Linked DNA regions of Homo sapiens: all the other regions are linked to region 2. Evidence: fine-mapped expression QTL. A gene starts in region 2. Each other region holds a variant in brackets. All regions are shown on one strand. Distances are from middle to middle.

Region 1 (10,862 bases), 180 kb before region 2:
AATCCCACAGGGTGAAAGTTATTGCATTTTCAACTATCATTTAATCCTTTCTACATGAAGGACAAAGCCTCATTTTGCTGCTAACTCATCTTTGATGCCTCTTGGACTCTTGCTAATATGTGTTTAGAGCAAAAAAAGAGGCCTCTGACTCAGAGTCTTCAGGCCCCAGATTCTGCCCAGAGTTTTGCAATGTTTTCTTGGTCACCTTGCTTTCCTCTTACAGCATCTGCTATTGAAGGCAAGCGCTACCAAGTTTCCATTCAGCTGTGGTTTATGGTTGGAGGCTGGGACCAGATGCCGGTGATTTGGTGACTGGCGCGTTAGCATTGGAGAAGCATCAGTCTAAAGTAGGAGTTGCAAACTTTCTCTAAAGAGCCGGAGAGTAAATATTCAGCCTTTGAAAGTTGTGCAGGTTGTGCAGGTTGTGCCGGTTCTGTCCTGACCACTAAACTCTGCTGCTGTAGAGCAGCCGTGGACGATACGGAAATGAATGAGCATGGTTGTCCTATAAAACTGTACTTAGGATCACGCCTGTAATCCCAGCACTTTGGGAGGCTGAGGCAGTGGATCACCTGAGGTCAGGAGTTCGAGACCAGTCTGGCCAACATGGTGAAACCCCATCTCTACTAAAAATACAAAAACATCAGTTGGGCATGGTGGCATGTGCCTGTAATCCCAGCTACTTGGGAGGCTCAGGCAGGGGAATTGCTTGAACCAGGGAGGTTGAGGTTGCAGTGAGCTGAGATCACACCATTGCACTCCAGCCCGGGCAACAAGAGCGAGACTTCATCTCAAAACAAAACAAAACAAAACAAACAAACAAACAAAAGACAAGTAATGGGCAGCTTCGTTCTGTGGAATGTAGTTTGCCGACCCCTGGTCTAAGGTATCTTTGCAAATTGAGTTAAGCAAATCTGCCAATAAACCTTTTCACTTAACAATGTGAGGTTTTTTTTTTTTTTTTAATGTTGAGCAGATATGAGCAGATAGTAGCTCTGGAGTCCTCAGGTATCCAGCATGTGTTGGGAAATGTGGATTTCCCTGGGTCAATGCTCCCACCATGGCCACTTGAAGGCTACCAGTATGATTTTCCTGAAAACAGATTTAAGAAGAGATGTCACCATCAGCTTCCTCAAACCATGCGATCAATCCTGAAAATGAGTGTCCTGTGTTGACTTTGTCCTGCCAAATAGCATGCCCACCCAGAACCTCAGAATGTGGGTTTATTTAGAAATAGAATCTTTGCAGATGTAATTTAGTTAAGATGAAGTCATCCTGGATTAAGGTGGTCTCTGATCCAATGACTGGCATCCTTTTACAAAGAATAAAATTTGGACACAGAGCATCTCAGAAGGAAGATGACGTAAAGGAAGGTAGGTGAGAAGGTCAAGTGAGGACGGAAGCAGAGTACGGAGTGATGCATCCATAAGCCAAGGAACCCCAAGGATTGCTGCAGCCACCAGAAGCCAGAAGAGAGGCCAAGAAGTATCCTTTCCTGGAGCTTTTGGGGAGCTTGGTCCTGTTGATACCTTGATTTAAGATATATGACCCCCAGGGCCAGGTGTGGTGGCTTACGCCTGTAATCCCAGCACTTAGGGAGGCCAAGGGGGGGCAGATCACCTGAGGTCGGGAGTTTGAGACCAGCCTGACCAAAATGGAGAAACCTGTCTCTGCTAAAAATACAAAATTAGCTGGGCGTGGTGGCACATGCCTGTAATCCCAGCTACTCGGGAGGCTGAGGCAAGAGAATTGCTTGAACCCAGGAGGCAGAGGTTGCGGTGAGCCGAGATCATGCCGTTGCACTCCAGCCTGGACAACAAGAGCGAATCTCCATCTCAAACAAATAAAAAAAAGTTTTCTGACCCCCAGAACTATAAGAGAATGAATTCCTCTGGTTTTAAGCCACCTAGTTAGTGGCAATGTGTTATGGCAGCTCCGGGTAGCTAGTGCAGTGGGACACAGTGGTATGTGGATATGCAGGCATTTGGGAATCACAGTGTAGGTCACGTAGCCAGTAAGTGTCAGAATGGGAATCTGAGCCCAGATCTACACCCTCCGCAAGCCCAAGTCCTTAAGTGTTTGACTGTGTATCTTCTTAGAGAGGAGTGTTGAAGGAGAGGACTTGCGTCGTGCACTGAAAGTCAACAATATTCCAAGGTGGAGGCCGGCAAATTCTCTCTCAGTCTGGGACATTAAGGACACCTTGAGTTGCTTGGTCAAGTCTACATGGCACAGATGGGACCATCACTGTGGTGCCAATGAGCCCCACCTCCAAGTTCAGGGCACCTCACAACTTCCCACATCAAGTTCCCATCCAGAACTTCCCAGAGAACAAGAAGCCACCATGTTTCCACCTACAAGAGTTAGCTGCTGGGCAAAGTAGACCTCAAAGATGAGCAGAGGGCTGCCACTGAGACCGTCCTGGCACTGCTGGAACTGCTCCCAGGGGTTGTGAACCCCACAACCTCCTTTCCATGGAGTTCATTTTAAAAATTATATGTTAACCTTCATTAAAAAAAAAAAATCAGAGACAGTGCTTCTTTCTTAGTTTCTTTCTTCCTTCCTGTTTTGTTCCAGAAGACTTGGCTCTGGAGGTTGTTACTTAGTTTGGAAGGCAAGAGGAAGGTTAATTAGCTTTTGTGACCCAAGAGCTCGCAGGGAAGATGTCAAGCAATTCCCTAATTGCTCCTCAAAGTTCGATACGGTTGGAGGGGCAAGGTCCGGGAGAGAAGATGCTAAGCTGGTTGTTAGGTTGACTATGAATTCCACCCAGCATGGTGCGGGGGACATTTGCAGGGCATTGTTCTCTGTGAGGAGTCCAGATAAATAATTCATTCCTCTCTTGGGTCCCATCAGCTGGTGGCCTCCAGCCCAGCAAGCCATTGTGGATTTCAGGGCCAACCCGGGGCATTTCTTGGGGCTGAGACTCCCACTCAGTCATAGAGAGAATCCAGCCCCTACATCTGCATGGGTTGCATTCTGCTTCCTGAGCTCCTGAAAAACATAAACAGTGCATTTCTCTGCTTGGCAAAGGATACCAAGGCAGAGACTCAAGATATGTCAGCCATGGTCTTCCAAGTCCTCAAACCTCCAGACTGTGGTCTGCAAATGTGCCTCACCTGGGAGCTCCTTAGACAGAATGCAGAATCTCTGGCCCACCCCAGACAGGCTGAATCAGTATCTTTGGCATGGGGTCCAGCACTATGCATGTTCACAGGCTCTCCAGGTATTTTTTTTTTTTTTTTTTGAGATAGAGTTTCACTCTTGTTGCCCAGGCTGGAGCACAATGGCACGATCTCAGTTCACTGCAACCTCTGCCTCCTAGATTCAAGTGACTGTCCTGCCTCAGCCTCCCAAGTAGCTGGGATTACAGGCACTCACCACCACACCTGGCTAAATTTTGTACTTTTTAATAGACATAGGGTTTCTCTACTAAAAGAGCCAGGCTGGTCTTGAACTTCTGACCTCAGGTGATCCACGCGCCTCAGCCTCCCAAAGTGCTGTGATTACAGGCGTGAGCCACTGTGCCTAGCCTTATCCAGATAATTCTGATGCACACTAAGGTTTGACCAGTGCCCCTTAGGACCACAGCCCTTCTTGACTGTTAAAAACCTAGCAGAGAATAAATCCATTCTCTGCCCTCTCCCCCAGACTCTCAGTCAACCAAGACACCAGCTGGGGGATTCCGATGAGAAGCAAAGCCTGCATTAGATTCTCTTGCAGAAACTGATACTCACTGGTGATTTTCTTCAGCAGTTCCTGAAATCACTGAACAGGTGGATTTTTTCTTCCTGACTTGGCAGTATATCTTCCTCGATTCACTTACTGTTTAGAACATTTTGCTTGTTATGATTGCAAAGTCATTGTGGCAGGCAAAAATGCATTGCATGTCATTTTTCCTCATCTGCACATGGCTCTCAGGACATAAAGAGGATGTTAAAAAAAAAAAAAAAAAAAAAAGCAGGACACAAAGAATGGCCCTGCCACCATCTCCCTCAGTGGAGTCCTCTCTCTGGCCCCGGGAAGCCTCGCCAGGGGTGTTTCCCTTCACTGGGGCTATAAAATTTGCATCCTATTCATAATTACATGAAATCCCCCAAATGCACACTGGGGACAGCTGCTCCAGGGTCACATTGCCAAGGATGGCACAGAGCTAGCAACTACACCAAAAAGTCAAGCCATGGTCAGCTTGGGTGGAAAGCACCATGGGGTGAACATATTCTCCATGTGATGAGAAGTCACCTCTCCAGTCATATTCTAAGGCAAGAGTGGGAGCTGCCCATCACAGCCCAGATGTTGACCACTAGGGAGAGAAAGGGGCTTGATTCAGATGCGGTTCGTTTGGGGACACAGTGACAAGGCAGGAGCTCCTGGGGTCGCAGGGGTCGGGGAGAGGGGATAGGGTGTCTTTAGCTGATTGAAATCTCTTCTCATTTGACTGCAGGTGAAGTAGGATCAGAGGTGGATTCACTGTGAGGCCCTCATTTCCATGGGGGCTCCTTCCAAGACTAGGAGGGGCCCCAGTCATGTGTCCCTGTGGCCATAGCTTTGCAAAACTTGCTGATGGGGAGAGATTTTCACTGCAGTTGACTTCAGGCCACCATCTCTTTCTGCTCCAACTTCCCATCCCTAGGGTTTCCCTCACCTCAGGAGCTGTTAGAGGGGCTGCGGCTCTTCTGGAATGCACTTATTTAGGCTTGAGTGGCAGATTTGTACGAAGCCACTTTCACATCGAGTGCCATTGTGCTAGGTGTCCTGGGTCAGTGATGTCTCCAGGAACAACCCTGCTGCCCATGGAAATAGTGCTCCCAGTGTCCTGCCAGGATCCCGGGGCCAGATGAGCTTCTCATTGGTGCCCAGCACCAGAGGGTCTGGTGGAAGAGGAAAAGGAGCAAGGTTTGAAATGTATGGAGCCAGAAGCCAGTCTAAGAAAAATCTTCTTATCATCAGACACGCTATTATCAGGAGAGGATTCAGTTCTCATTATTACCTAGTCAAAATAAATGTTCTCCCTTGTAAGGAATAATTTGTAATGCATATACACAAATGTAAATGAATCTTTTTTTTTTATGGGATGAAAAAGAATCTAAGGACGGGTGCAGTGGCTCATGCCTGTAATCCCAGCACTTTGGGAGGCCGAGGTGGGTGGATCACTTGAGGCCAGGATTTTGAGACCAGCCTGGCCAACGTGGTGAAATCCTGCCACTACTAAAAATGCAAAAATTAGCTGGGTGTTGTGTGTACACCTGTAATCCCAGCTACTCAGCTACTTGGGTGGCTGAGGCACAAGAATCACTTGAACCCTGGAGGTAGAGGTTGCAGTGAGCTGATATTGCTCCACTGCACTCCAGGCTGGGTGACAGAGCAAGACTGTCTCAAAAAAAGAAAGAAAAAGAATACATCAAAATTCTTGTGTCTATAGGACAAAACCTTACCCAATGCCACATGAGTCTGTCTGTGTGACCATCTGCACGTTGCATGCCACCAACTATCCATAACTTTAAAAAAAAGCTTTATCTGACCACACTAGAGGAATTATCTTTCTGTCCTGTTAAAAGCAATACCAAACATTTTTGTCATATGAAAAGGCAAAATGTATGCAAGAGAAAAATGTAGGAAAACGTACAATACAATCAGGTAACTATTAAAATATTCAATACTGTATAGTTTTGTGACGTACAGAAATTTAGCAGCTTTTAAGAATTTAAATAAACCCCATTCCTAATTTTATATGTGTCATTTTGTATGTTGTTTTCTTTAATTTTGAGCCCCACACAGCCTGGATCTGAAAGGGCTCATTCATCCATGCGTTTGTTCAGCAGATGCTTACGGAGCCACCACTGCAGGCACAGGCAGCAACGCAGCCAGAAAGAAAGCTGGTGCTGGTGTCAAGGGGTGAACAGCCAGGTGGGGGACATGATAGTCAGCATGTAAACAATCACATTCACGGGAAGCTGCAGAGCTGCAAGGTGGAGGGAGCAACAGAACCGCAAGGAGGAAGGGGAAAGGGTACTTGCAATGGGCTGGTCAGGAGGACCTCTGAGGAGCTGATGCTTAAGCAGAGACAAGGGTAATGGGAAGGGAACAAGCAGGCCAGGAGCTGAGGAAACAGTGTGCAGGGGCCACGACACATGCAAACGTCCTGAGACTGTGCTGGGGCGGCTGGCGGGAGGTTATCATGTTCCAAAAAGAAGAGCAAGGCCAATGGGGTCAGACAGATGACAGTGAGGGCTGGGTGGTGGGTGGAGATGGACCGAAGGGCCCCGTGAGGAGA[T/C]AGCATGAACTGGCGCTCTGTCCCCATGGCTGTGATGAAAGACAACATGTGAACATTACACCAAGCAGGAAGAGTGATTAAAGGCGATACAGAGACTCCCATGTTCTCCGCCAGCAAACTTCCTGCTTCTTCCTTGGTCTGGTCTAATTACACACAGACTCCCGTCTTGACCAGTCACCCCAGAACTCATGTGTAAAGCTAATATGCAGAAATGAGGCTTACAAAAGGACAGGGAGAGACTTCCAATTAAACATCTTCTGCAGCAAATGGGAAATGGGGCCCTTTAATGTCGACTCCAGCTGGTGCATTCTAAAAGAAAACCAGGCAGAAATACATGATGGTTGGGACACTTTCTCCAAATATCAAAGCTGAATACACTCTTTTTCAACTTCAGCACAGCGATCCTTCTCTAAACAGCACCAGCCAATGGAAGTCACAGCTCTTCTTACTCCAGAGAGTTATATAGAATCAATCCCTTTGTATATATTTTTAAGCCGAGAAATTTGCATTCTCCTTGTTTTTCTTTGGAAATGGTGACTCAAGTCTTTTGCTGGTCTTGTCCTCAAAGAACAGGAGGAGTGACTATTCTCACCGGACAGATAGCTTATTCTGAGGGGAGGGCTGGGGGGATTCACCACGCCTCTGGTGTCTCAGCTGCTTGAAAATCAAAGCGGAACTCTCACAGTGGCCTATCCCTGAGCAGGTCAGGGAGCCTGATGAGCATCATTTCAAAGCCACGCCATGAGCGAGATGGAGTCCGAGCAGGCCTGGACCAGAAGCAAAGAGCAGCCGTTCACACGAGAACGCATTGCCTTCCTTCATCAGGCGGAGGTGACCACTGAAGGAAACAGCTGCAGGCTGGGTCTACAGTGGGTGTCACATAAGGAATCCCCAAGCCAGCCCGGCTGGAATTAGCTGCCACCTGTGCCTGCCCACGGGGCACTCTGTGTACATCCACTACAGCTCACGGTGCTGGAGCTCCTAGTCCCCATGGCTGTCTGTGCTACAGATCTTGAACTCTTAAAAGGCAGGGGGCATGTGTGGTTTGACTTTGCTTGATAAAAAGTCACCCCCCACCACCACACACACAGTACCTGGCATGCAGTGGGAACTCAGGAGCTATTGAATGAATGCAGTGAGCTGACACCCTGGCTGCAGGACACGGAAATGCATACACAGGGCCATGAAGCCCCACTAAGCCCATGGCGCTGAAACTCCTGGAACACCTGCTGACCACAGTTCCTCAATGGCTTTCTCCAAGAGCACATCAGAATGGAAGCACCAGGCCTCTCCATCTCTGGGTGCATACAATAACTGCATCAATACACATGGTCCAATGGTCAGCCCAATTGCTCATCTTATCCAGGAAAATCTCCATAAGAAATCCAGCATTCTGGGGGAGAAGCCTACTGGCTAGAGGACACAGAGACACACGTGCTGTGGGGCTGGAACCTGCAGGATAGCTGGGCTGGGAGGCAGCCTGAGCTGTTGGCTGGAAGTGGAACCAGCTACCTTGGAAGGAAGTGAGGTGTCTATCCACAAGCACCCACACAAAGCCAGAGGGCCCTGTTGTACTGGGAGGGAAGCTGGATGGCATTACAGTTCGCCCCTCTCAGCTTGGGTATGAATCTATCATTGTTTGTTTGTCCTGAGAAAGCACACTGCCATATGTTAACTTGGCTACTGCAGTTAGAATGGATCAGGAAAAAAACCTTACTATTCCTATTCATCAAATCATTGCCTGGCTTATTGGTTGTACAGACTTCACGGATAGGGAACCTGAAGATCATATCCAAGGATCAGAACATTTTCTGCAGAGGAGATGTAGAGTCCAGGGATGAACCTCCAGGCTCACCTCATGCCTGCTGAGAGGCACCTGTTTTTCACTCCTTGACTTTATGCTGAGTCCTGCCATATGCCAGATGCTGCTTTGCAGTGCAGCAAGGATGGGCCCACAGAGCCTCTTCTAGCATGGAGATTAATTCTGGTAAAGGAGGACAGCAAAGAGCCAGTGACAGCATGCCCCCAAAATGAGCACAGCTGTGATAGGGCATGAAAGAGGACAGAGGACAGAGCTAGAGAACTGCACAGAAGGCCAACTTAGGGGTGGGGTGGGTGGTGCAACAAAGGCCTCTCTGGAGAGGTAGCATCCAAGTTGAGACCTAAAGAAGAGAAGGAGAGCAAGATGAGCCAGGCAGAGACCTTCCTGAAACAGGAAAGTATGTACAAGGGCCCTGTGGTTGACAGGGAGGGAAACCACAGCCTGCTGCGGGGCCGGATGGGTGAGCAGTGCTGCAGTGGCACAGGGGAGGGGAACCATCAGTGTGGGGTCCTCATGACCAACGCCCCAGAGGCGGAACACAGAGACACCATTCAGCAAGAACCAGCTTTGATAGGAGACTTGGGGAACACAAGGATAAGGCATTTGAGGTTCTTTTAAAGCTTTCTGCAAAAATCACATCCTCAGAGGTCTGGACGTGGGGATTTGGAGCAGGCCTGAGTCTGTCTGGCTGCTGAATATTTCATGCAGCCTCCTCGGCTGGCTGGCCCCTCGGTGCTGGGCATGGTCTTCCCCTTCATGCATGATTTACAGGGCTCTGCATTAATGCCCCAGCCCCATTTATCCTGGCCTGCTGACCATTAGCATGAGCAAATAAATATACATTTCCAAGAGCCCAGATACCCAGCCTGAGCCCAGTCTAGCTGACAGCTTTCCACTTTCTCCTAATCACAGGAGTTAGGGGACTGGAGGGCGGGGGACCACCTGTTGTGTGAGAAGATTCCAGAACCGCCTGTGGATTGGATTTTTTTCCTCCCTCTTCCAGAATTTTTACCTTAGAAATTCATCATTCTCTCTTTCCCTTTTGGGTGATAGACAGTTCTTTCATGTACTGCTGAGAAGATAATTCAGAATTCTGTTTATTCTAATGCAGTTCAAAATGTCTGTGACTAGCATCTGAAAATAGCTCTGTGTGTTAAATACTGGCAGCCAGAATGCTTTTGGAGCCTGTTTCTCACCGTCCCCGGGTCCTCCAGCTTGTCCATCAGTCTGTCTGTGTCTGTCTGTGTGAAAAGCAGCTCCTTTGTCTCAGGCTTTGTGGGACTGGGCTCTGTGGGGCAGTTTGGGGGAGGGGAAGGTCATGGTTGGATATCATTTATGGTGCATGTTCTGCGTGTTAAGCTTTGTGCTGGGCCCTGGGAAGGACTCTGTCCTTTTGCAGCTTTCAGTCGGTTGGGGAGACAGGCACTGAATGGGGAAATAGACAGTAAAGAGACATTCACTAACCAACACCACGGTGACGGGGCTTACATCCTACGTGGTCCTCGGATTCACTTCATTTGGGGAAGCTATTGCAGAGGCTGGGGCTGGAACCAATATGGCTCACAGGGAAAGGAGCAGCTGGAAACAAGGGAAGTGGGAAGCAGAGAGGTGGAGAGGGAGTGGGGAGGGGTCCAAGGTCAAAAAGCCAAAGGGCCAGGCTGAGGCATCATCGGTAGAGGTGTGAGTACCTGGGGCAGGTGTCAGGAGGGGAAGGAGTCAGGGGTAATCACATCAGGGACACAGGAGCTGGCTCTGGTGGATGTCGCCAGATTATGAAGGGGAAATCTGGGAACACAGCACTCATAAGAACAATGACCAAATCCAGCTCCTCAGTACGTCTGGGGCATGTGGGCAAGGTGGGCAGGGAAGGCCTCGTGTGCTGTGGCCCTCCCCACTCTCCAGCCTTATTTCTTGCCTTTTTCCCCTTACTCTGCATATTCCTAGCCACAAGGACCTCCTCCCAGTTCCTTGAATTCTACACTCCCTCCTGCCACAGGCCCTTCGCTCAGGCCACCCTCTTTTCCAAGAACACTGGTTCTTTCTCTCCACTCTCAAAGCAACCATCACCCCTCCAGGAAGCCTTCTCTGCCCTCTCCTTCCCCAAGACTATCCCAAATTCTACTATTAGCTACTCTTATAGCCCCAGGTACCACACCTCCTTGGGGCTTATTCCTGTTGAAATTTTACACACATTGATATATTTTTTAAAAATTATCTGTTGTTCCTATTAGATTTATGCTCCTTAAAGACAGGAATGAAACACATCTAGTTTTGTTCAACACAGAATCTATGTAACTGGCCTGAAATCAATATATTCTTTTTTTCATTTTTGGAGATGGTTTCTCTCTCTGTCACTTAAGCTGTAGTGCAGTGGCACAATTATAACTCACGGCAGCCTTGAACTCCTGGTCTCCTGCAGGATGGATGGATGGATCAATGGAAGGATGGATGGCAGGATGGATGGATGAATGGATGGGAAGATGGATGGATGAATGGATGGGAAGATGGATGGGAGGACGGAGAAATGGATGTATGGATAGATGGCAGGACAGATGTACACATGGGACGATGGATGGGAGGATGGGAGGATGGGAGGATGGATGGATGGATGGATGGATGGATGGGAGGATGGGAGGATGGGAGGATGGATGGATAGATGGATGGGAGGATGGATGGATGGGAGGGTGGATGGATGGAAGGGTGGGTGGATGGATGGATGGAAGGGTGGATGGATGGGAGGATGGATGGATGGGAGGGTGGATGGAT
Region 2 (10,862 bases):
GCACCTACAGCAAATATTGAACACAGCCCAACTCTGAGCCAGATGAACATAAATCCTCACACTAAGGCCTGTTGACCTCAGTTCCTATTGCTCTGAATTATTAGCCAGATAATTTAAAATACTGTGGTTAGTATGTTAAGGGTTCCAGTGAAAAACTAGATAACATGCAACAACAGATAAGTAATATAAGCAGAGTGATGAAAATACTAGGAAAGAATCAAAAGGAAATACAAAAAATCAAATCACTGCAAAAGAAATGATGAATGCCTTTGATGGGCTCTTCAGTAGCCCAGACAGAGCCAAGGAAAGAATCAGTGAGCTTGAGCATATGGCAACAGAAACTTCCCAAACTGAAATGCAAAGAGAAAAACATATTTAACAAAAAACAATAGAATCCTTAAGAACTGTGGAACAACATCAAAAGGCTTTATGTATGTATTATCAGAATACCAGAAAAAGAGAGAACAGCACATGAGTGTTCAAAGTAATAATGGCTAATAACGTTTCAAAATGAATGATAGACCCAGAGAACTGATAAATACAAAACAAGCAACAAATAAACAAAAGCCACAATCACATACCCTTAGGTATATTATGTTCAAACTGCAGAAAACCCAAAGACTAAGAGAAAATCTTGAAACAAGATTATTGATATTTAAAAGGCAAACATTTAAAATGACAGGAACAATTTATTGAGTGATTATGGCACATGGAGAAGTGGGGTGAAGGCAACAACATCCCAAGAATTTGAAGGAGGAACTGGGAATGTTCTGTTAGGTGGCATCTGCACTGCCTGGGGGGTGCCCAGTGTTATCTGAAGGTGACTTATTGGTAAATGGGGAGAAGGGTCCCCAAGGAGGTAGAGTGGCTTGGTAAGTCAGTGGGTGCACCAAGCATGGATAGCAATGTGACTGGAGCCAGAGAGACGGGGGCTCAGCCCCAATCCCACTCACTGTGCCAGCTTCAACAGGGTTTTCACAGCTTTTACTCTCAGATACCTCATCTCAGAAATTAAAGCTATCAATAGTTCCTTTGTAAGTCTCTCTGGAATTGACATAAAGCAAGTAAAGCTGTCCACATAACACCTGGCACAGGTAAATCGCCTATATATGGGAACTGTTATTATTTCAATTGACAGCAGTGGCGCTCATATTGTGGTTTCCCCAGACCAGCAACATCACCTGCAAATGTGTTAGAAATGCAAATTGTCAGCTCTCACCCCAGATCTACTGAAGCAGGAACTCAGTGAGTGGGTCCAGAAATTTGTGTTTTAATGAGTCTTCCAGGTGTGCTGATGCTTGCTAGTGCACGAGAAGCACTGCTTTATACAATGAAGAAATTACTAGTGAGGCCAAATACTGAATGGCAACTCTGATCACCTGGCTTTCCTGACATCAAGCTCTAACATCATAAGTAGCTCAGACAACAGTGTTGTTAAACACAGCTATTATTGATCACATTCTACCTTCACTATCAGAGGCAGCTCAATGCTTGGCACATAGTAGGTCCCTAAAAAACACTCAAGTGAATCAGGACCACAGCTCTCCCCATGTAACCTCACTATTTCGATAAGGAAGGCAGAGCGTCCAGCAGCTTCCTGCTCCACCTTGCCCTGTGTGCTTTGCCATCTGATGACAGCCCCATGAAGAAGTCAGAGTTTGACTCCTAAATATAGGACTAAGGGGACTGAGATTTGATCCTACAGCCTCTGTTTTCAAATGAGATAAGGCTGAAAGGCCACATGACTCCCTTCATAAGTGATTCAGGGAGGAAAGAAAACTAGAGCTAAGATCACCAATTTTTTTGTTGTTCTTTGTTCCATGGTTGTGCTGAACCCCTATTAAGCTCAATAGGAAGGCCGAAGAGACCCAGAGCTAGCAACCAAGCCATGGGGTTTTATTAGGGGCTTACGTGCAGGGAGAGTGTTCAATGATGGTGGGCTGAACAGGGAAATCACCTTATGTACAGAAATGCTCCAGTGGTGGCGGGCCGGGCAGGAAAACTGTAACCTCTTCTGAACAGCATGTCATGTACATACCATTTTCACTTAACACCCTCCTGGTAACCTCGCCCTGGCAACCTTCATCCAATCCCAAACTCAGGGCCTCAATCCCGTGAACGGCCCACGTTCCACAGAACAGGCCAGGGGCTCAGATGTTTATCATAGACACAGAATCAATCTCCGGGTTGGCCACTCCTGGATTCCCTAGCACAGAACACACATTTAGGCGCATCTGCCATACAGGGTCATTCTAAGGGTATGCTTATTACTATCAGGTGCATTTACCCTACATTCCCCCCTCATGAACATTAAAATGTTGAGGTTTCTTGATGGAAATTTTTTGTCCATTCGTAATTTTGGTTTAATCATTGTTAGTTTTTGATCAAGCTCTGTGGGGCCTCTGTGGCATGTACAGTGCTGTGCTGGACAAGGCAGGGGACTAACAGAGTAACACACGTCCCCATCCCCTGCAGAGCCGGAGCCCTGCCCAGGAGAGAGAGAGGGTGTAGACAGCCTCATGACGATGCAGAATGGGGAACAACTGTGTCATAGCAAAGGACCACGCATGATGTTAGGGGTGTTTAAAGGGCAGAAAAGAAGTCTGTTCCAAGAGTCAGGGACCAGGGAGGCTTCACACAGGAGCTGGACACCAGAGCAGCTTCTGCTAGGGCCTCCTGGGAGACATAGTGATCTGGCCTCTCCAGGAGAATGCAATGTCCCACCTGACAACCATGCAAAGAAATGAATGGTGAAACAGACAGCAGGTCCCCTTTGCCTATTACACTAGCATTAAAATGTAGTGGACATACCTAGTGCTGGCAACAGTGTGATGAAATTGGCATTCTCATCTATTTCTGGAAGCATCTGGCAAACTGCCTACTGGGAAGATAAGCTTTTGGAAATCATCAGTCAACACGCGTGAAGCGCTATTGTCGATGTTTGTGTCATCGGCCCAGCAATCAGACATGTGGAAATCTGTCCTAACGGATGTTGTTGTTAGCAAAAGAAAAACAATATTCTCCACTGGGTTCATTTCCCAACAGCTGGAAGCAATACAGGCATCAGAGAATGGCCACCTGAATGAATACTAACTGCTCAGTGTTGAGTAGCCCTTAAAATAATTTTTCTGAAGAAATTCAGCCACCTGCAAACAAAAATCTTAAGGTATGTTAAATTAAAAATCATGTCTCAGAATTTTACTGAGGACAATTGCAAATACTCAACAAGTAATAAACCTTGGGCAAAGATACTGGAAGGAATTACAAAATAATAGTGCTATCATTAAGATGGTGTGGTTGGTTGTGGTTTTTATTACATATTTTCCCTGCTTTTCAAATGCGCTAAGATGTTCTTACAGATAACAGTTGGAGAATGCAAAATATTAGAGAGAGAGAAATGAGAATGAAAGGTCACCTCCTTATCGTTGAAGTGGTAATAAAAGTAGTCACAGGACCTTCTCATTGCCAGCAGCACTAGCCCTCATGTGAACTTTATTTTCATTCTTTTCTGTTGCTGAAAATTGGTATCCAAGGGCAGTTAAGTCTCAGGGGCATGGCTTGACCTCAGGCTGACCTCAGCCCAGCACCAGGCTGGATTTCTGAAGCTAAGCAACAGGTTCTGAGGTAGGTCAGAGAGGGTGGTCACAGCCTCACTTAAAGGAGAGCAAACTTGCTAAATAGATGGCGAGAACAAGCCACCTGCGGTGCACAAGCCGCATCCCAGGCTCGTGGTTAGACCATCCTTTAGCGAGGAGGTCAAAGAGCGAAGGAAAAATCCGCGAATTCATCCAAGTGCAGAAACCCAAGATGAGTGTCCTTGGGCTGACCTGCGCTCATTAGAATACTAAAGAACTGGGTGGAGATTTACGATGCTAACGAGACATGCGATGTGTGTACTAGCATGCACAACCACAGCACATGTGCCACCAGGAGACAGCCCAGAACATGCTTCACGGCAACACCCCTTCCCAGCCCTTCATGAATAATCATGTAAGACCCCCATAAAGGGGGTTTCCCCAGTGTCGGCCAGCACTGCCTCGCCTTTGAGCGGCCGCTCCGATCCGCTGGCAGAGTGCGCTTTCGCTGTGCGATCAACTCCCTTGCTTACCTTTACTTTGGACGTGCTCTCAAGTTCTTTTGTGTGGCGAAGTCAAGACCCTGAACCGGTCCACCAGCAACAGTTCTTTCGGAGTCCCTCAACCACAGGCCCTGAAAGCCGCTGAGTTAAGTCTTTAAACTGCGGGAGAGCCTGGGAGCATCTGAAACGCAAAAGGACTCCCAGTGGATAGGGAGGCAGCACCCTGACCGGAACCGGAAGAGGTTTGCCGGTGAGCCTGAGTCTCCACACACAGTGATCCGGGCACCCGGGCTGCCGTGTGGCAGGTGAAACCGCGTGTGGTGTGGATGTTTCTCCAGCTGTGTTCTGTCGAGCCCCTAAAAGTCTGGCCTGCATTGGAAGGGCCTCCCCAGTGTCCTCGTTTCTGTTCAAACAGAAAAGTTCTTATTTTCTGTATTTGTGGTTTTTGCTTCCTCATATAATTTCGGTTGCACAAAGCTAAAAAATATTTGAAAACCTCTACTTAATCGTATAACTAAATGCAACATTATCTTTTGCTTATTTAATAACTATTTTAATATTTATTTTCTATTTATATTAATAGTGATAATAAAAATATAGCTTGGAGTGAGAGAAAAGCTTTCCTCTCTGTTAACTATCACTGTATCATTTAACTACCACTAGCTATTCCTCACAACGGTTTCTAAAGTGTAAGCACCTGCCACCTCATTAGCCTCTAAGCTCCACAGTGCCAGGGACTCTTTGCCTTAGTCTCTGCTATGTGCTCAGAATACCCAGCACATACTAGGTTTGAACAAAATGCATTTTGGAGAGTGGATGCTGCTGCCACCTGGTGACAGCATACCCACATTTCATGCTTAGCACTTTGATTACTTAATGAAATTCATGAGGAATGGAATCAGAAAACCTAAGACATGCATCTGTGTGATAGCAATCTCACTTTCCTCACTTAGCTTTTTCTGTTTCCCTACTCTGCACAGATTGGAGACATCTGAGTTTTCTCTGCCCCCATCACCTGCACCTGCCCTGGTGGCATGCACTTGCACCTCCTCTGTCTGGTATTAGGTTGGTGCAAAAGTAATTTCTGTTTTTGCCATTACAACTGCATAAACTGCGATTACTTTTGCACCAACCTAATAATAGGGCTTGCCCCTCCAGAGGATAGAATCTTTGCTTGTCACCTTAGAACTTCTCACACAGAGCACTGCATTCATCAAACCCTGGTCTCAGCCATCCTCGGGGCACATGGAAGGTCATGCCCATAAATCAATGCCTCAGCCAACATCTGGTCTCCCCTTCTGCCATTCCCTGTGTCCCTGCCCTGGCACCAGGCATTTGCAGGTGCAGGGGGCAACATCATTTAGTTAGCTTCATCTGGGCAGGGAGGAGCATTATTAAACATGAGAGATAGCTGTTGGCTCATGGAAAAGATTAGTTTTAAGCTATTTAAGGCAAAGCAATAAAGGATGTGGTTTCCTCCTCTGACATGCTTCCTAATTTGTAGATTCATATGACATCACACTGGATTACAAAGCCACATTACTCTGATTGGTAATATTATGCTATCCTAATTCAGTTTGTATAATTATTTAATTTTTTAGGACTGCTCTCAAATATTAACATTGTGTTCGGTAGAGGCCAGAAAAAATTGGGAACATGCATCCACACACGTGGAGAAGCTTAATTGCTAGAATAATGCAGGGCAATTATTGTAATGAGAACAAAGCCTCATGTCTGGCATACACATGTGACTGTGTCCAGCCCAACTTCCACTGAAGTGACAGTCACTGGACTCGAAGCTCCTCAAGGACAGGGGCTGTGTCGCCTTCACAGACATGACTCATTGCCGGTGCTCAATCAGGGTTGAGCTGACTTGACTTGAAGCCAAATAAGGACAAAGAAAGGTCAGGCAGTCCTGAAAAAGCCAAGGGTCTGAGAGACAACACTCGCTGTTGTCCTCGCTGTTTAATTCTCTGAGGTCCATTAGGAAGTAGGTAGGAGCCATGTCATCATGGCCACTTGGGCCAATCGTCTGCACAGATGGGGAAGGCATCTGCCCCCACAGTGAACACTAGGCTTATCTGCCTCCTAAATCTCTCTCCAGGCTAACTTCCATGGTTATTCAAATCCCTCTATTAAATATTCAGACCTCCAGCCCCTGGACCTCTATGGTCCTCCTGACAAAGCTAGAGCTGTGATTTCTCTGCACCTCCATTCTTCATCTGCAAAATGGGGCCATAGAGTCTACTCCACTGGGTTGAGAAGCTACTGGAAACCAGGCTGCCAAGTGCCTGATGCAGTATCTGTCTTCAGCTGGCCTCCACACAAAGACAGTTTCCTCTTTTAAATTATATCTAGACTTTTAATCATTTTTTTACATTTTTATGGGTACACAGTAGGTGTATATATTTATGGGGAACATGAGATGTTTTGATACAGGCATGCAATGCACCATAATCACACTATGGAAAATGGAGTATCCATCTCCTCAAGCATTTGTCCTTTGTGTTACAAACAATCCAATTATATTCTTAGCTATTTTTAAATGTACAATTAAATTATCGTTGACTCTACTCACCCTATTGTACTATCAAACACTAGGTCTTATTCATCCCCATGTCCGTCCTCCTCACCCCCGCAACACTTCCCAGCCTCTAGTATCCATCCTTCTACCCTCTATCTCCATGAGTTCAATTGTTTGGATTTTTGGATCCCACAAATAAGTGAGAACATGTGATGTTTGTCTTTCTGTGCCTGGTTTATTTCACTTAAGATGATGACCTCCAATTCCATCCCTGTTGTTGCAAATGACAGGTTCTTATTCTTTTTTATGGCTGAATAGTACTCCATTGTGTAAAGTACCACATTTTGTCCTCTTATTGCTTTTCGTCACTGCTGAGAGCCAGTCCTATCTGCTGCTTTTCCAGGGTTTCCTAGGAAGATGCCCACTCTATGTGTTAGACCAGAAGTTTAAGTTAACGTGGTCTATGGACAATCACAGCCCATGCACCCATGGCAGGGCCTCAGGTACCTGCATGTCACCAACTCCTTACCCCAGAGGAGATGCCCACTCTGGCTGGGAAAGTTTAACCACTTCGACGCACACATCTGCCCAACAAATATAGACAGAATGCCTACCATGTACAAGTGTTAACCAAACACCTGAGAAAGAAGCATTAGGTTAACAGAGACTCTATTTGCACAAGCAGTTTGCAAACTGGGGAGATGCAGCCTTCAGTACAAAACAAAGGTGGGCCCGGAGAGAACCAAGAGAGTGGTTGTCTTTGATAGAGAAAGCTCTTACCCAGCCTCCCACTCTGGGCCACTTATGCAATTGTGGGATGTAAACTGCTCAGTTCTGATTGGCCGATGCTGTCACAGTCTATTGCTCAGGTCCAGGAGGAAAATAAGGTTTTCCCACAGCTACTGATTCAGGTGGCATGAACAGGAAAAAACAGCCTTGAATGTCCCTAAGTTACATGGCAAGGGTGTGTGCTTTCCTGGAACACAGAGTATGTGTGTGACCTCTAGTCAGCAAATGGCTGCTTGGCTCTATTTGGAAACTAGGCCCAGTTAGATGCTTAAGAGCTGTTTCGGAGAATGGGCTCTTTCAGGTTCACACAAGACAAAACAACTAGCAAAAGGGAGAAAATGTTCCTGCAAAGTCTACTTTCTAGATTCTCTAGGAAGGTGGTTTAGTCAGGGTTCTCCAGGGAAACGGAACCAATAGGAGATATTATATATATCTTATATATATGTGTGTGTATATATATATTATATATGTGTATATATATTATATATGTGTATATTATATGTGTATATATATATTATATATGTATATATATTATATATGTGTGTATATATATATCATATATGTGTGTGTGTGTATATATATATATATACACACACACACACACACACACACACACACACATATGGGTGTGGGGAGATTTACTATAAGAAACTGACTTGTGGCCGGGCACGGTGGCTCATGCCTGTAATCCTAGCACTTTGGGAGGCCAAAGTGGGCAGATTGCCTGAGCTCAGGAGTTTGAGACCAGCTTGAGCAACACGGTGAAACCCCATCTCTACTAAAATACGAAAAATTAGTCAGGCATGGTGGCATATGCCTGTAGGCCCAGCTATTCGGGAGGCTGAGGCAGCAGAATCACTTGAACCCAGGAAGCGGAGGTTGCAGTGAGCAGAGATCACACCACTGCACTCCACTCTGGGTGACAGAGCAAGACTCTGTCTCCAAAAAAAAAAACAAAAAGAAAAAAGAAAAAAGAAATTGACTCAGGTGGTGATGGAGGTTGAGAAGTCCCACAGTCTGCCATTAGCAAGCTGGAGACCCAGGAAAGCCCATGGTATAATTGGAGTTCAAAGCTCTGAGACACAGGGGAGCTGAGGTGTAAATCCTATTGTGATAGCAGGAGAAGATGAGATGAGATGTCCCACCTCAAGCAGGGAGTCAAGAAAAAAGGCGAATTCCTTCTTTCTCTATCTTTTGTTCTATTCAGGCCCTCAACAAATTGGGTAATGCCCATCCCTGTGGGGCAGGTCAATCTACTGTGCTGAGTCCAGCAACTCAAATGCTAATCTCTTTGGGAAGGCTTCTCACAGACCCACCCAGAAGCAATGTTTAACCTGGGCACCCAGAGGCGCAGTCAAGGTGACACCTAAGATCAACCACCACAGAGGGTGAAACCATCAACCACTCTAGGAGTTTGGTGTAAGGGTGAACCCCTAACCAAGCCAGGGGTCTTGTGTAGTAAAAGGAGGAGGCCAGACTCTGACCCCAAAGTGTCTCATTTAAAGATCTGAGATGGGCTCCAGAACATTCTATGTGCTCACAAGAACCTCTGCTATTTCTGACTCTGTTGGTCCAAGAAACAGCACAAGACTGTGAGCTCTTTATGAGCTGAAACCAGGCCCCAGCTCTGTCCCTGAAGGGACAAAGCACAGTGTGTGGAAGTAGCAGTGTTCAGCGTCTCATTTGTGAGATGAAGCGAAGCCATCGTGAAGGAGTCTGGAAGGACAGAACAACTTTGCTAAGGGGAGTGAGAGTGAGGTCAGGAGTAGGGGAGAAACAGGAAATGGGAGTTCCTTTGAGAGTTGTGAGAACTAAATTCATGCTGGGAAGAGGTGGAGAGAATTCAGAGAAGTGGCTTGCTCTGGTGTGAAGGATCCTTCCGAGGAGGTCAGGATTATAATGATCTCATTACTAAATTGGAACTTGCCCGCCAATAGACCCTACTCATCTCAGACGGAGAAGGAGCTCCACAGCAAGCAACTGTGATTGCACATTAAATATTTAACAGATCGCCTCTTGAGCAATCATTTGTGGTCATAATCTGGCTCAGTCTACCACCACATCACAAAAATGCTCACGTGAAAAGAAACGTGGGTCCAGGAGGTGGTTTCTCAGTTCAATGCACAGATCACTGGTAGCCAAACTCCACACAAAGGTGGATCTCCCCTCGCCATAGCGTCTTCTGCAGTCTTGAGTCTCCAGCCTGAACTACTCCATGAGACCAGGCCCAGAGGACACCCAAAGCCTGGGGAGCCCAGCAACAGAGGTGTTCCACCTTTACCTCTAAAGGGACCTTGCTGCCCATGCCTACCTCCCCATGTGGGGGTGCTGGCTTCTCACTGCTGTCAATATCGGCATTGTCCTGGCCCCTACCTCTGCCAACAGGCACACTGACTTCGGCTCTTCCTGCCTTCCTCACACTTTCCATTCTGCCCACCTGATCCAGGTACAGGTGCTTCCTACCTGGAGGAGGGGAGGAACCTCACTGGCTCGCTGTGCTTGTCACATGCCTTGCTGACGGTTTGCCCTCAGCCACCCAGGAGGTTCCATTTAGGAATCTTAGAGCCTCCAGTGACGCTGCACTCAGGGTCTCACTTTCCATCACAGGAAGTTCATCTTTAGGTTTTGTATTGCCTTTGGCTATTTTTTTGTAAAGTTCTATTTGAAGAGAGAACTCTGAGGCCAGTGCTTGAAATCTACTAAGATAAAATGCCAACTCCCTAGCCTGGCATTCAGAGCCTCTCGATGACTCACCCCTGCACACACCTCTGCACGAATCTGCATCTCAGGTCCACCTGGTCACCCACTGTCACCAACACAGCTTTGGTTTCATCCTACTATGCTTCACTCACATTACCTAATTCCCTCAGCCCAACTGACCCTTTTAAAAAATGTAGCAAACCAGGTCACCTCTCCTGTTAAATCTCTCCAGTGTCTGCCCTCACCCACAACGTGGCCAACGTTCCCATCACCAGTAACAGCGTGTTGACAGCAGGAGCCCAGATATGATCACGGGCCTGCCACCTCTGTGGGCCTCTCCCTGAACACTCATCACCCCAGTCCAACCCTGAGAAAGACATCAGTCAAACTCAAACTGAAGGACACCTGGCCAGGATGCCTAGAAACCATCAAGGTCATCAAAAATGAGAAAAGTCTGAGACACCATCACAGCCCAGAGGCGTCTAGAGACATGATGACTAAGTGCGAGGCGGTGCCCTGGACGGGGTCTTGAAACAGAAAAAAAAGACATTAATGAAAATGAGTAAAAGCAGAATAAGGCTTACGGGTTCATTAGTAGTTATACACCTATGTTAGTTTCTTAACCGTGACAAACGCACCATATAAATGCAAGAAGTTGATAATGGGGGAAACAGGGTAAGGGATATGTAGGAAGTCTGTGCTACCTTCGCAATTTTTCTATCAATCCAAAACCATTCTAAAATTAAAAGATTTTTAAAGCTCTCCAACAGT
Region 3 (10,862 bases), 85 kb after region 2:
CTCAGAGCCTAGAGGCATGGAGTAGCTGCTCACTGAATCCTCACAGAATGAATGAATGATTGACCACACCCATCACATTAGGCCTTATGGGATTATTATCAAGAACGCCCTATTTAATGATGGGGACATGCTGCCCCACTTCCATCCCTGGGCCTTGGTGCACAGGCCAGAAAGTCCGAGACAGACCATCTGTCCTCCCTACAGGGGACCAACTTGCACAAACAAATGGGCATCAGCACCCACTGGGAGCAGCCGTGACCCCTGGGTCCTCGGTACCAGCCACAAAGCCAGTTCTGAGTTTGTTCAGAATCCTGCTTAGAATGAAGGATGCTCCTACACCAGAGATCTCTTAATACGACCACCAAACACCACGGGATTTTCAAAGGTAGCTGCCACAGCCGCCGCACACAAGCTCTGTTCCTGGCTTGCTTCTGCCATCTGCTGGCCAGTTGATAAAAGGCACCGGGGGTTATTTTCCAGTCTCTCTGAGGCTCTTGTTTTGTGGGAGGAACTCATCACCACCTTTATCTTCACAAGGGCTGCTTGGCAGACCTGTCCCATAAGTAGTGCAACTTGGGAAGATCCTAGGCCTCTTGTGGGTAGGGCAGTCATCCAGTCCTGCATCTTATGACTTCACACGTTACAAACGTTAACTTGCTAAACACTCAATGTGAAACCTAGGAGTAAGGGACAATTATCTTTACTATCTACAAACAAGGATGTTCAGGCACAGAGAGGCTCAGTACATTGTGCAAAGTCACACAGCTACAGAGTTGTGAAGCCGAGATTGGAACTCAAGCAATAAGGCACTTTGATGGCAGGCACCTTAATGGGGGGTGGGGGAACACCCTTTACCAACAACCATGCAAATGGCCCAGGTGCTCCTGTGACCCCTGATCCCAGGGGCTCCACCAGAGCACCAGAGAGAGAGGGATGTGGGAAGAGCAGAGGACAGAAGAGGACACGTGCATCTAACCACTCGGAGGACAGGAGAAGGCACCCTAACCTTCTGAGCTGCCATCTTCCAATCAGGAGGAGGGGAGCACTGGATACATAATCTCAAGGCTTTCCCTACAGTTCTCTCAACAGGACAGACAGGCAGGGGTGCACAGTGGTTAGAGCACAGGCTTTTTGGTCAGACAGAACTGGGTTAAAGATCAGACACGTCCACTCACTCTCAATGAGTCCATATCTGTAAGCCTAAGCTTCCGTCCTCACACATGTTGATAAAAGAAAAAGAAAAAAAAAGGCCAAGTGCAAAGCTTTTAGCATTGTTTCTGGTTCAGGGTATGGACTTAATACTGTTTTCTATCATTATAACCACACTAAAGGCTCTGAGAAGTCCTGCAGGAAGGAAAACTACTTGTCTTTATCTCAGCCATCCCCAAGCTAGCTGCCCACAGAGCCACCATGGAGCCCACAGCTCTGTCACCCCACAGGGCCCATGTGCCTGGCCCATTCATGTTCCCTCACACGGGAGCCTCAGGCCCCAGTGGAAACAGACTCAGGAGACAAACCCAGGCCTCCTGCTCCCAGCTCCCCACTCTGTCCTTCTGCTTCTACATCCAACTACCCCCAAAGCAGTTTCTACAATCCATAAACAAAAGAATTCAGAGACAATTCTCCAGGGCTCCCAAGACGACATATTTCATCTGTGGCTTCTACAGTGCTTATTTGTCAGTTTTACAGACCAGAGGCAATTAAGAGTCTAAGGCCGAGAAGGCTGTTTTTAATAATTCTGTCATTATTCTCAATTTTCAGCACCACCACACATGAAAAACCCATTTCCAATTCCCTTAAAGGTGTTAAATGGTTTTTGCACTGTGTTGCAAAAGTTTGCCGTCCGCCAAACTGCTACAAAGTGGGCTTGTAGCGTCCGGTCCTGAGCTGTGGGAACGACTTGGTCGGGGCTGATCCGCTGGAGCCCAGCTCTTTCCCCAAGCGTTCAATTCCCAGCACATGCCGCGTGGGTCACTGTGGATTTCAGGGTGGACTCACCGCGCTGCTGGGTGTTGCAGTCCACGCGATTTCACAAGACTCCATGCAGGACACCTCCACCCGGCCCAGGCTCAGGCAGGATATGAACAGGAAACCACTGTTTCCTGCCGATCAACACCCAGGAACTGATGAAGTAACCCAGTGCCCAGCCCCTCTGACAGCCACAGAGCCAAGAAGAGGGAAGTGAGGTGGCATCCAAGGCAGCCCCTGAAAGAACTAAGCAAGGCAAGTTCAAGGGGTTCAGGGCTCTGCAGCAGCTGATGGGGAGCAGGGAGGAGCATTCCGTTTTCAGGGCATTGAAAGTCCTTGAAAGGAGAAAATTTTATAAGGAATGACAAGGCCTGGATGCAGAAGGTGGGAGACCCCTGCCCTTGATAACCGTCATAGTTACCAATGACAACTATGATAAAGAGATGACTTTCTGTGGCTCCCACTTGCTGCCCTCTGTGGTTCCAGGCACATCACAGAGAACTCTTCATTTTCATGAGGCCCCATAAGGACATCCCTATTACTATGATCCTTATCAATATCCTGATGTTACAAATGAGGGAACCAGGACACAGAGACGCTGAGGAACTTGTCTGAAGTTACATGGTGGAGACATAGCCTGGGACGCAGCAGTGAGAGGGACAGACGAGCCCTGCCCCTGTGCACCAAGCCATCTGCTGGGGACGCAGAAATCAAACAGCTCGTGGCTGCCCTTGTGCCCAGCGCTGTGGGCATGAGCGAGCTGCTTTGAAGAGACAGCGTGGTGACCTGCCCTGCTGGCCCAGGCAGCATCACACGGCAAGAAGGCGGGCTTTGAAGGGTTTTAAACAGAGTCGTGTTCCCACGTCTGCAGTGAGAGGGCTGCAAGCCTTTGTGTTTTTCACACGGTGTTACACAGCGTTGGGGTCCACGGACCTGCCTCGGAAGCTGCTCATGGGCAAATGGACGACCACGGGTGGGGAAGGAAATTTCCCCCAAACACACACATGCTTCACCCAGAGCAGCCAAGCTGTTTGTGTGTTTGTGTGTATTCACGTGTGTATGTGTGTGTGTGTGTCTTATGCCTAATGGTTCATTGAGTTTAAGGATCTCTCAGCTCCCTTGCAGCACAAATGTTTCATAATTTGGTGGTTAGCGCGCAGTGACCAGGCAATACAGGTTCATCAAAATGCACCAATGAGACAGAGACAGGAGAGGATGTTTTGGCAGCAGACAGACATCCAGGAGGCCTAGCACACCCCCATCCCCCGGCCCCAACCTCAGAGAGATAATCAGGGGAGCAAAGGGCATTAGTATGAAACGACCAAAGAGACTTAGCGAGCAACGTCAGACTCCCTGCAACACGCGTGCTGATGGGACAGAGGGGGAGTTATTTTTATACTTCAGAAATAACCAAGCATTCTGCATGCCCAAAGCCAGTTTGGGTTTTAAATACCTTTCATAATTTTTCTGACTATGGAGGTAATACATCCTCAGGGCATAAAATTTAGAAATTATAGAAGAGTATTTTTAAAAATCCAACCATTGAGCAATAACCATTATAAAAATCTTACTGTTTTCCTTTCTTGTCATTTATCTAGGCTCATACAGATATTTGGGGCTTTTTTCACAAAACTAGGAAAATGTTAAAATATATATTCTAATATTGTCTCGATTTTATTATTAGATTTATCATAACCATAAAAGATTTGAACACTTTTAACGACAGCGTATTATTCCATTTCCATGGAATTACTGTAATGAATCTCCTACTGTTGGGTTTCAGTTGCTTCCAAATTTGAATGTAAATAATTTGGGGGCAGTTCTCACTCCATCAATGGCAGACTAGGTTGAATACAGCCGAGGTTTTGCAGGCACACACTATGCCCAAATTAAAGCCACAGCCCAGGATGTTGGCCATGGAGAGATGATGCTTTCAACTGTATCAACTCTTGAAGCTGGTGAACCATGGCTTCTCCCCTTCAGGCGCTGGCAGACCTTCTCCTCACACTCTTGGCTCTTTGCTGGGCTGACAACTCCCTACTTGCCCTGCAGGCCTTCCCTGAGCTCTGGGGTCTTCTTTCTGCCCCCTTCCATAGCTCCCCGTGGCTGCCACATCTCAGCACTGACATCCTACGTGGCTCTTTGTCCACACCTAGCTCCCTAGACCATGCACCCCTTGTGAGCTAGGTCTTTGTCTTCCACATGGAAGTTCTCACTAAACACTTGAATAAAGGAATGAATAAACAAATGAATGAACAAACAATCTAACAAAGAAGGAGCACATGGGCTGACCTTGCAGGGCTCTCACGCCAAATCCTGGAGGCGCCTTCTGCAGCCGTTTCTGTCTCCCAGCCAGTCCACCTGTTGCTCGGGCTGCTACTCAGAAGTGGCGCGTACAGGAAGCACGTGCTTGTTTGTGCTGGCCCCATGTTTGTTTGCATTTAGGATCACGGAGTTTACTCAATTAATAAATAGAGTGGAGAGGGGGTACTGCCTCTGTTTGGCAGACAAAACAAACAGAGGAGAGGGGAAGATGTCCAGGGCAGATTTCTCCCGCTTTCAATCTTAAATAAATAACCAGTTTCCCGATGCTAATTTTTCCTCTTTATGATCTTGTCTATCTGTGCACAGACGATGAGGTCTGATCCCTTGTGGTCCCAAATGCCACGTGGCAGTGAGCTTCCAGGCCACGTCCCTATTGCGCCAGAAGAGCCCATGTGTGTCTTTGTGAGCATGTTCATAGTTAACCTTGTTGATCATTACATGAACGTGTTTAATCCTTACCACAAGCCTGGGAGATAGGAACTCTTACTGTCCAAATTGCACAGATGGGCAAGCCGAGACACAGAGAGGTAATGTAACTTGCTCAAGACCACACAGCCAGCAATGGCAGAGCCTGGATTTTAATCCTGACAATCTAACTTCAAAACCTATACCTGTGATCACCAGCTAGTCCTCAATAGCCAATGTGCTGATTTCTAAAGAAATTCCAGCACATTCCCGCCATATATAAGCAGCCTGTTATTCCCAGGGAATATAAATGCCTTGGGTTTAATTTAATGAAAGCTGTTATTGGAAAAGATACACCAAGATAATTAATTTCTTAAACAATGGAAATGAGGCTGCGGTTGTGTACAATTTTGTTTTTAACTGGAGGTCTCCCACCTCTGGAAGAGGGTATGCTAGAAAGCTGAGAATCCCAGGAAGAGAACTGGTAGGTGAGTCTGGAGGCTGCATGAGCCTCAGGGTCATGGAAGGTGTGCCAGTGTGTGGGTGCCAGACCCAGAAGAGGGTGCCAAGATCACCTGGAGCAGAGCATCCAGGGAGCTGGGCAAAGCTCTCAGAGATCTTTCCCTGCTTTGAAATGAGACAACCAATCCAGGGTATAAGTCCATGCTGGAGCCATGGCAAAGAAGAACTAGGACCCAGCCTGCCAGCCCCTTTTTGAGGCTGGGACTTCTTGTTACCTCTACAGGATAGTATGATAGAAGGCCCCCTGGCACAGGGCCAACTGGCATATAGTGGGTAACTTCTGCATGTTCGGAGGTTAGTCTTAGCCTTCTTACCCTTTATGATAGCACCCTGATCCCCCCGCC[C/T]CAACTTCCTATTGTGTGAATCCTGCTGGGTGGGACTCTCCAAACAAGGATCTCACCCTGCCCAGAGGGGAGGCACGTAACCTGAGCAGATCCACTGGACCCTCTTGCTCAAGGTCCCCACCTTTGAGGAGAAGACCCCCAAAAGAGTAGAAAAGGTGCCTATGTCTTCTGGCCACAGCCCTGAGGCCTCCCGGACACCAGAGTGCCTAGGCTCTGGTTCTTTCTAGGTCCATTTCTCCAGCTTCTGCCCTACATTTGTGCATTCCCCCAAGCCCTTCCAGCAAACTCCCTCTCTGCTTCCCTGTTATTCTGGCTGTTGCCGACACTCAGGGCCCCTGGCAAAGCAGCTGCCCCACAGCTGGTTGTGGAGAGAACAAGCAGCATCTGAGAGTGGGAATGTGTGTCCTCTGCAGCACCCCGTGCCCTGGTCAAGAACTCTGCTTTTGTTTTACTGCCAGGAGAGCTTGGGACCATCTCTGCACCCCACTGAGCCTCTGTGTCCCCCATAAAATGAAAACCATAACAGTTCCACAGGGCAGGAATGTGGATAGAACAAGGTAATGAAGGTGAAGTGCCAAGCTCAGAACTTGGCACATGGCATCTAGTACAGAACAATGATGGTCTATCTCCAGAGCCTGGGCTGGAATCCCCCTTCTTGAACATCCTCTCTCTGCAACCTCTTTTTGGCTCTGTTTCTTCAACTCTGAAATGGACGTAACAGAGCCCAACTTGAGGAGTGAGAAGTATGGGAAGTCAAATACATGAACACCCCTGATGCCTGAGACACAGACCTTGGTGATTTTTTGAGGTATACCAGTAGAGACATGATGAGAAGTGCTTTATTTTTTCTAACTGCCCTTCTATTTCTCTGGTTACATAAAAAGTCTCAGGTCAGCACTCACCTCTATTAAAGACCCCATCATAATAAAGAGGGTGCAGGGCTCAGCTGGGTCCTCACAGGCAATACTACCAACCAGCATTTAGTTGTATGTTTTATGTCATATTTTGTATGGTTTCTTTCCATTCTTAGAAAGCCTTACTAGTTTTCTACTTGGAAGAGAGTTGGAAATCTTACTTTTTTATTTTTTAATTTATTTAATTTTTAATTTTTGGGGGTACATAGTAGGTATATATATTTATAGGGTTCATGAAATGTTTTGATCCAGGTGTGCAATGCATAGTAATTACATCATGGAGAATGGGGATATTCATCCCCTAAGCATTTATCCTTTGTGTTGCAAACAATCCAATTATACTTGATTAGTTATTTTTAAATGTACAATTAAGTTATTATTAACTATAGTCACCCTGTTGTGCTATCAAATAGTAGGTCTTATTCATTCTTTCTAATTTTTTGTACCCCACTTTAAAAATACATTTAAATAAAAAATTGAGTTGATTTAAAGAAAAAACTGAAGTAAATAACAGTATCAGCGTTAGAAGAACACGGCCAAGACCTTGAAGGTGGCACATGCTAGACGGTAGGGAGGCTGGAGATAGTGGATGTAACGCAACAGGAACATGGCAGGTGTGCTGTCAATCCAAGCTGTCATCATTATCATCATTAGCCCCAGTTAGCAGGACTGGTGTGAGCAAAGGGGCCAGCCTGCACTCACCTCCTTCCGAAAGCCGCTACCCTTTGGAAGCATAATCGGCTCTGAGGGCAATAGGGATAATTACACAGGGGATCCATGCCACTGTGCCTGGTGATTAATCACCAGCTCTCCCTGACGCTTCCAAGCAACCCCGGCTGATGGGCATAATCAAACCCTGCAACATGGGTCCTCCCACCAGCCACAAAACGTGCCGCTTGTGGCTCAGACAGATGTTCCTTGGGTTTCAGACCATGGGAAAATAAATGGGCTAATTCATCGCCGCTCCTCTGAAAAACACAGTCCAACCCTGCAATATCCACCAACTCCCTGCTGGCAGAAGTCACCCACTGCACTAGTGAACCCAAGAGACAAATGGCATCCTTTGCCTATGACTGCTTAGTGGACTCCTGGGGTGCCAGACCCAGACATGGCCATCAGGCGGAGTTCATTCTCAACCCCACCTCCAGGTGGCACTTTTCACCTGAGACGCTCAGCCCCAGCCAGGTAAGCCCTGCTGTCCTTAGCTATGTGAGCCACAGGTAGGAACTAGAGACAATGTTCATAATACACCTGGGCAGGGGGTAAACACAGGCGGGCTCTTGTGATGGTTTGCTTGCATAAAAATGAAAATGAACCAGGCAGAAGCCTGCAATATGAAGTGTGGCTCTGACTGGAGCTGAACAATATTTGACCCCCTCATCCAAAATGTCAACATCACCGCATCTTTCTCCTAATAGAGCTGTGTGCCTATGAGCCTTGAAAGATCTGCATTATAATCTGTAAATGTCTAGGAGTCAGTATGACAATTATCTGAGGACTCCACGGATATGATGAATGGACAGAAAGACAAGGACAAAATTGGGATCCAGGCTAGGAACTAGGAGAGACAAGGACCCTAGGGGAGAGAGGAGCAAGAGGGTGAAGGAAGGGAGTGGGAGGGCAGAGAAAGGAAGGAAGAAAAACAAGAAAGAAGGAAAAGAGATGAATCATATATTAGTCAGGACCTCTTGATGGGAAGTCACAACAACCTAAAATAAACTGGATTAAAAAGAAGTAGAAGAATATTGACTCATGGAACTAAGATATCCAGCAAATGAAAAGACTTCAGGCAAAACCGGATGCAGGTGTCGAAACAATAGTATCGGCACCCATTGTCCCTCCATCTCTCCACGCTGCTGTCCTCTGCACCTCAGGAAGGCAGGTATGGAGCAAGGCACATGCTAGACGGTAGGGAGGCTGGAGATAGTGGTTGTAAGGCAACAGGAACATGGCAGGTGTGCTGTCAATCCAAGCTGTCATCATTATTATCATTAGCCCCAGTTAGCAGGCCTGATGTGAGCAAACCGGCCGCCTGCGCTCAACTTCGGATTTTCACCACCTTACAGACCAGAGAAAACCCTGCATTTATATCGAGTCCCCCTCCCCGAAAGACTCTCATTGGCTTTCCCAGGTCATGTGCCCACTGCTGGACCAATCACTGAAACCAGGAACAAAGGAGTATTCTGATTGGTCAGTTTGGAACATGTGATTAACAGTCTCAATAGCAACATGGACAGAAGAGAAGTTCCCAGCATGAGGGGTGTTAGGCAGATAGAAAAGGCAGAAAGGGAAGAGAAGGAAAATGAAATTTCCTGGACACCTGCTCTCTGTCAAGCACAATTGAAATAGTTGTTTTTTTCCAATTTAATCCTCATCATAACCCTGCCAGATACGCATTTGTATCCCCATTTTACTAGTGAGAAAATTGAAGCAATGTCAAACTTAGCCGCCTCCAGCTGTGCAGACATATCAGACACTGGGATATGACAGTTGGGGATGGATTCATGCAGCCCCACCTCCACCACACTACCCAGGACTGATGTGTTCATGAGCCCACCTGGGCTGCTGGCCCATGAAACTTCAGCTCCTACCTTGGCTGATCAGTCAGGCAGCAGCCCTGGCTCCAGTGCAGCTCCTGGAATCGTCAAAGACCTTTGTTACTTTGTTACTAAGCAATCATTGGCGCACTTACTCACCCATCATGTAAAAATACTTTCGGAGTCCCTACCATATACCAGCTGCTGTAATAGGGATCAGGAACACACAAATGAATAAGATACAACCCAGCCCTCAAGGAAAGACAGGCAATCAGGAAAATCAAAAACAAACATTTGTAAAATATTCTGAAGAGGCAAATGCAGGAAGATCTTGATTATGAGGAACACTCCAAAAATGTATCTACTTTGGGGCTCAAACTTTCTAGATAGCTAAGGCCTTAGGTTTTTTGGGTTTTTTGTTTGTTTTCTTTTTGTTGTTGTTGTTGTCATTGTTGTAGTTTTTTTAGATGGAGTCCCGCTGTGTCGCCCAGCCTGGAGTGCAGTGGCATGATCTCGTCTCACTGCAACCTCTGCCTCCCTGGTTCAGGCGATTCTCCTGTCTCAGCCTCCCAAGTAGCTGGGACTACAGGCACTCACCACCATAGCCAGCTAAGTTTTGTATTTTTACTAGAGACGGGGTTTCACCGTACTGGTCAGGCTGGTCTCGAACTCCTGACCTCAGATGATCTACCTGCCTCGGCCTCCCAAAGTGCTGGGATTACAGGCGTGAGCCACCGCGTCTTAGGTCTTTAAGAATAAAACTGGCTACAGTGAGCTATAATTGCACCACTGCATTCCAGCCTGGATGACAGAGCAAGACCTTGTATCTAAAATAAAAATAAACACAAAATAGTGAGGGCCCTTCTAGGGTAGAGATATTTCTTAACTGTAGCACATACTTTTCCTGACTACCTGAGTGGCATTTGCTGCACCCAGTGGAACCTTCCTTGATGACTTAGGGTCTTCATGGTCAACATGAGTGATGTAATGAATTGAGTGGCCTCACAGTGGACCTGGCTGCCCAGGGGCAAGTACTGGAAGCACTGGGGGAGAGACTGCATCCCCATGTGGGTGAGATCTTGTAGGTAGATGGAAAAGAATGCGGGATTCTGCAGAGATTCTCAACAGGGGATGATTCTGTCCCCCAGCGGATATTTGGCAAAGTCTGGAGACACTTGTGGTTATCAAAACTAGGAAAGGAGAGGTTGCTGCTGGAGTCCAGTGGGTAGAGGCCGGAGATGCTGCTGAACATCTTACAATGCACATGATGGCCCCCCACAATGAAGAATTATCCAGCCACAAATGTCAATGGTACTGAGCATGAAAAATTTCAGGCTAGATGGAAATTAGTTTGTTGACAGTTTGAAGAAATAATCCAAGTAGATGATTTAGCTTAGTGTATGGCAAATAAGGAGCTGTTAAAATGTATTGAAATATTCGCTGCTATTATCTTCATCACCACCGTCATAACCGTCACCATCATCATTATTATTATCATAATTTTTTTTCTTATAAAGCCACTTCCAACCTCCTGTATTACACTCGGGCAATGGTAACAAGGATTGCTGGGTTAGACCTGCATCGTCAGAGCACACACATTGTTGTTCCGTCACTGACTCCTAAGATGACTTTCAATACATTACCCTGATCCTCCTAAGGACTCAAGATACTCACCTATAAAATGGGCAAACTGCTGTCCTCTTCATATGATGAAGACAGAGCTCAGTGCGTGTTAAGTTTCCTGCTGTGAATTACTTTGAATGTCACGATGAAAAGCCAGGTTATACATCCAGGAAAGTGGATTCCCATATTCCTCCATGGCTGTCAGTTTCACTGCTGGAAACACC

The links. PIP is the estimated chance that this variant, and not a neighbour inherited with it, causes the effect.
Region 1: its variant is fine-mapped to the expression of MIR646HG in whole blood (INTERVAL, PIP 0.98).
Region 3: its variant is fine-mapped to the expression of MIR646HG in whole blood (INTERVAL, PIP above 0.99).

The regions. Positions count from the first base shown.
Region 1 is chr20:60,314,642-60,325,503 of GRCh38, reverse strand. It overlaps MIR646HG (MIR646 host gene), which reads right to left. Exons shown (of 5, transcript NR_046099.1): 4 at 6,497-6,583; 5 at 3,248-4,871. Among named protein-coding and RNA genes, the nearest start is that of MIR646, 12 kb to the right of the region's middle. The variant T/C (reference allele first, on the strand shown) is at 6,275.
Region 2 is chr20:60,131,891-60,142,752 of GRCh38, reverse strand. MIR646HG (MIR646 host gene) reads right to left here and starts at 4,261. Exons shown (of 5, transcript NR_046099.1): 1 at 4,109-4,261.
Region 3 is chr20:60,047,145-60,058,006 of GRCh38, reverse strand. It overlaps LINC02910 (long intergenic non-protein coding RNA 2910), which reads right to left and starts at 2,082. Exons shown (of 4, transcript NR_161293.1): 1 at 1,999-2,082. RefSeq lists enhancers at 1-59, 155-334, 345-394. The variant C/T (reference allele first, on the strand shown) is at 5,565.